Linked DNA regions of Homo sapiens: region 2 is linked to region 1. The links come from fine-mapping of genetic effects on gene expression. Tissue or cell type: whole blood. Region 1 holds a variant in brackets; the other region holds the start of a gene. All regions are shown on one strand. Distances are from middle to middle.

The links. PIP is the estimated chance that this variant, and not a neighbour inherited with it, causes the effect.
Region 2: ADA2 starts here. The variant in region 1 is fine-mapped to the expression of ADA2 in whole blood (INTERVAL, PIP above 0.99).

What each region holds. Positions count from the first base shown.
Region 1 is chr22:17,179,813-17,182,484 of GRCh38, reverse strand. ADA2 (adenosine deaminase 2) reads left to right here. Exons shown (of 10, transcript NM_001282225.2): 9 at 463-665; 10 at 909-2,672. The coding sequence ends at 1,002. Among named protein-coding and RNA genes, the nearest start is that of HDHD5-AS1, 22 kb to the right of the region's middle. The variant G/C (reference allele first, on the strand shown) is at 1,212.
Region 2 is chr22:17,218,236-17,221,037 of GRCh38, reverse strand. It overlaps ADA2 (adenosine deaminase 2), which reads left to right and starts at 1,603. Exons shown (of 10, transcript NM_001282225.2): 1 at 1,603-1,682. RefSeq lists enhancers at 1,816-1,945, 1,956-2,025, 1,866-2,226.

The DNA.
Region 1 (2,672 bases):
ACTCTCCTACCCCTGTTAGTAAAGTTATTCAGGAGGGGCCTTTTGCCTAAGCCACCAATAAGAATGAGGCAGCAGTGAGGGTCCCCAGTGGGGTGGAATTTTGGGCAAGACTGTAGACAAAGCAAAAAGGACATGGGGGGAGGCCAGTGAAGTGGGACGGACCATGGGATGCTGCTCCCCATGGTTTCTTGGGGTCCTTTGTGTCTGTGTTCAGTTAGCGCTTCTCTGAGCAGGAACAGAAGTGACCCGATGTTTGCAGTGCTGATGAAACATGAGGAGGAGCATAAGGACTGGCTCTGTTCCTTATGTCTCCTTGTGACTCTGCCCAGAAGTCATCCCCATACTGGGGAGATAGTGATGGGAAGATGAAGGGAGCTGATGGGGCTCAAGGTCTCACCTCACTTGTGACTACTCTTTTTAGGGATCAGAGTTCATCTTTCTCCCTTCCCTCCTATTGCGCAGGTGCTGAAACTGGTGTCTGACTTGAGGAACCACCCTGTAGCCACTCTGATGGCCACTGGGCACCCCATGGTGATCAGCTCTGATGACCCAGCTATGTTTGGTGCCAAAGGCTTGTCCTATGATTTCTATGAGGTCTTCATGGGCATTGGGGGGATGAAGGCTGACCTGAGGACCCTCAAACAGCTGGCCATGAACTCTATCAAGTGAGTGTCCTGTGTCCTCCCAGGTCCCCCGCCTCCTTCCAGCCCGCAGCTTGTGTTTGCCTCTCTGGAGGCTTGAGGCAGATGCCTCGATGGTTCCTGTGGGTTCCTTCTCATCATGGCTGTTTAGTCCTTGCTGCTGGCCTGGGGAGAGTGCTCTGCAAGGCTCTAATGTCCTCTCAGGCTCCCTGCCCCGTTCCCCAACCCCTGCCCTGAGGCTGACCTGGGCTCCTCCTCTTCCTGCAGGTACAGTACCCTGTTGGAGAGTGAGAAAAATACTTTCATGGAAATCTGGAAGAAGAGATGGGATAAGTTCATAGCAGATGTGGCTACAAAGTGAGGAGAAGCTAGCCAGCCCTCTACAAGCTGTCTTCTTGCACACGCTGTCACTTCCTCTCACTCGTTCTTGAATCAGCTCCATGTGCCCATGAAATCAATGGCCTCTGTATGGAGCGACCCTGTGAGAAGCACTTGGCTGGCTGAGCAAATTCATCCTCTGGAAATATTCTCTCTCAGCCACAGTGACATTGACCCTCTTGGTTTTCTCCT[G/C]TCTCTGGCCATTTCTTCCAGTTTCCCTATTTCAGAGTCTTCTCCTCTCTCTGATCTCTGTGCTGTTTCCTCAGGACTCAGTCCTGGGCTCTCTTCTATTCTGGTCTCTTTATTTTTTTATTTTTGTATTTTTTCGAGATGGAGTTTTGCTCTTGTTGCCCAGGCTGGAGTACAATGGTGCGATCTCAGCTCAGTGCAACCTCCGCCACCCGGGTTCAGGCAATTCTCTTGCATCAGCCTCGCGAGTAGTTGGAATTATAGGCATGTGCCACCACACCCAGCTGATTTTTGCATTTTTAGTAGAGACAGGTTTTCACCATGTTGGCGAGGCTGGTATCCAACTCTTGACCTCAGGTGATCCACTCGCCCCTTGGCTCCCAAAGTGCTGGAATTACAGGCATTAGCCACCATGCCTGGCCTATTCTGGTCTCTTTAACTCTCTCCTCTTTATTTCTCTTCTCTCTCTGTACACTTTTCCTGGGTGGTCTCATCCATTCCTTTGCTTTTTCATACCATTTATTTGTTAATGATTCCCACATTTATTTATGCACTTGGAGAGCTCACAGGAATCTCAGAAACTGATGAGGTACAATTCTGAACCCTCAGTCTCTTCCCTTTAAACCTTTCTTTTTCTCTACTTTAATTTTTCTAAAGAGTGTCTTGCTATGTTGCCCAGGCTGGTCTCCAACTCAAGTGATCCTCCTGCCGCAGTCTCCCGAAGTGCTGGGATTACTGACATGAGCCACCACACTCAGCCCTTTAAACCTTTCCCTGGCCTTTCCCATAGCTGGTGAAGGACACCTCCATCCATTCCACGCAGTTGCTCAAAGCAGAAATTTTCAGTGCAAGTCTTGATGCTGCGCCGTCCCCCACTCCCTACATCAGAACGCATCCCTCATCTGGACTCCAGCGGTGGCTTCTTGATGCTGCGCGGTCCCCCACTCCCTACATCAGAATGCATCCCGCATCCAGACTCCAGCGGTGGTGCTCTACCTGCACGCTGTTGCCAAGTCCAAGCTACCATACTCCTGCCTGAGCTATGACAACAGCCTCCTCACTGATCTCCCCTTTCTTCCCTTTGCCTCCTCCAGCTCATTTTTCACAGTGTAGAATGACATTTTGTTTGTTTGTTTTGTTTTGTTTGAGATGGAGTCTCGCTCTGTTGCCCAGGGTGGAGTGCAGCGGTGCGATCTCGGCTCACTGCAACCTCCACCTCCCGGGTTCAAGCGGATTCTCGTGCCTCAGCCTCCTGAGTAGCTGGGATTACAGGCATGCACCACCATGCCCGGATAATTTTTGTATTTTTAGTAGAGATGGGGTTTCACTATGTTGGCCAGGCTGGTCTCGAACACCTGACCTCGTGGTCCACCCGCCTCGGCCTCCCAAAGCACTGGGATTACAGGCGTGAGCCACCCGGCCTGGCCTAGAATGACTTTTAAAAGATCAAATTAAATCAGGTCA
Region 2 (2,802 bases), 38 kb before region 1:
CCAAGTAGCTGGGATTACAGGTGCGCACCACCACACCTAATTTTTGTATTTTAGTAGGGGCTGGTCTCGAACCCCTTCCATTGTGATCCACCTGCCTCGGCCTCCCAAAGTGCTGGGATTACAGGCATGCACCACTGAGCCCAGCCTAGTCTTGAACTCTTGATGAGGGAATCCCTGACCCCTCTGTGTTTTCACTTTGGGATTTCTTCCTGTTTATTAAATGAATGACCTTGGTACTTTTTGGAGAAAATGACAAAAAGGAGCATCAAGGCTCCAGATGTATGGGAGCTGCAGAACTGAAACTGCCGTGGGCTTTTGGGGGTAGATTTGGGGTCTTGGGGGTAGATTTGAGTGGGACTGGGGAGGAGTGGGGTGCAATCGAGTCTTTAGACCATGCATGTGACATGGAGGTCCCTGGTGTAGCCTCCCATGTCTGCATTTCTAATTGGCTTGGATGAGGCATCCCAATAGTTACTTCTAAGAATAGTCATGGCTAATATTTATCAAGAGCTTTCTATGTGGCAGGTACTTTGCATGTGTTTTTCCTTTAATTCTGACAATGGACCCTCTGTGGTGGGTGCTTTTATTATCCACATTTTCAGATGAGGAAACTGAAGTATAGAGAGTTGAAACAACTTGGTCGAGGCCCCACTGCTACAGTGCTAAGGCCAGCTACAAAGCGAGGTCTGACTCTGACCGTCCTGGGTACAGGAGCCTTGTCTGCTCCACTTGTCCCTTGGAGCGTTGTTCTTGCTGGTCCTCTTCACACCCCAGCTCTTGTCTCCTACCTCCTGCCCCCTCTACTGTCCTGTCCCCGCATCCCTGATTTCCCCCCTAAAACATATATTTTATTATAGCTACTTTTTACTCTCTGTCTAATGGGTTGCCCCACAGTCCACAATCACATTTTGAGGAAGGAGAACTTCCCAGAGTTCATGAACAGATTTTGGAGTGCCTCTTTGCGGTGCTTGTTTCCAAAACCAACATGCTGTGGACCTTTCAAAGACACAGTACACACAAACACACACACACCCTCCCTCCAACACAAATAAACCCACATGCGGCCGGGCATGGTGGCTCACGCCTGTAATTCCAGCACTTTGGGAGGCCGAGGTGGGCGGATCACCTGAGGTCAGGAGTTCGAGAGCAGCCTGACCAACATGGTGAAACCCCATTTCTACTAAAAATACAAAAAATCAGTGGGGCATGGTGGCGCACGCCTGCAATCCCAGCTACTCGGGAGGCTGAGGCAGGAGAACTGCTTGAACCCGGGAGGCGGAGGCTGCAGTGAGCTGAGATTGCGCCATTGCACTCCAGCTTGGGCAACAAGAGTGAAACTCTGTCTACAAAAAAAAAAAAAAAAAAAAAAAAACAAACCCCACATGCACATAAACCGAAACACACACGAACACACAAACACCCACATGAACATGCGCACAAGCCCCCCACATCAAACTCAGATGCACACAGCAAGCATGCATGTAAGCCACACACTTGCCACTCTGGCTGCCTCAGCACTGCAGAGCCCCTCTCCCCGGCCTCTAGTTGGATCCCTGGTGCACACTGGAGGGAAATAAAACCTACCCCAACAGGAAGTGAAACAGTTGGTGAGCTTTTCCGGTGCTCTGCACAGATGCTGGGGCGCTGAGCAAACAGCCCTCAGTTTCTGGAGCTGTTCCGAGGTAACTGGGGTCCTTTGGGAGCTGTGGGATGATGAGGTTCAGGAGGTAGCTGGGAAGTCCGGAGCTTGGGCTTGATCCACCTGCACCTCTCCCTGTCTCCATCTGAGCTGGGTCTGAGACTCTCAGTGGAGGAGTAACAGGCTTTCTCCCAACAGGCTTTTGAAAATGGGCCCAAGGGCATTTACTCAGGACCACAGATGCATGTGGCCTACTCCACTGTCACCAGGCTGGAGTGTGGTGGCACGATCTCGGCTCTCTGCAACTTCTGCCTCTCGAGTTCAAGCCATTCTTGTGCCTCAGCCTCCCTAATAGCTGTGATTACAGGCACCCACCACCACGCCCGGCTAATTTTTGTATTTTTAGTAGAGACGGGGTTTCACCGTGTTGGCCAGGCTGGTCTTGAACGACTGACGTCAGGTGATCTGCCTGCCTCGGCCTTCCAAAGGGCTGGGATCACAGGCAGAGCCACCACACCCAGCCTCCTTTCTTCTTAGTCTGGAAGCAAACTACTTTATGAAGTTTTCATGCATCCTCTTTTAAAAGTAAAAGGAAAATCTTGTGGAGGAGAGAAGATGAAGTAGATATAGCAATAAATTGTGAATAAGGATTGTTTTTACTAGTATTCAACCAGGCAGGTCTTGACCACCATTAGATAAACTTCTGTCTGGCAGCCTGGAAAAGTTCACAGTTGCTGGGACACAAATGCTTTTGGGGTCCTTCTTGGAGAGGATGGAGTTGAAGATTTGGGAGCTTGATGGCCTTTGTTATGTGTCACCAGGGAGACAGGGACAAGGGGCGGGGCTGTTGATGGAGAATGTGGCATGGGGTAGGTGGGATGGTGACATAGAAGTCACCGTGCTCCTGCCCTAGAGATTTTAGTAGCAGGCAAACACCGTGGTCAAAAAAGAGAGTCAAGGACTTAATGAAGTTAAAGGGGTTCTGCTGACGTCCAGCACTCTGATTTTGGGGGTACAGCTTCTGCCATAACTGCATATTGCTGATACTAGTTCCTTCTTAAAATTTTCTTTGCTATCTGATGTACTACAGAATAACTGAGCTGGGAAGAATCTTGGATATTAAAATGATTTAATGAGTAGCAAACTTTCCATTTTTGTCATAT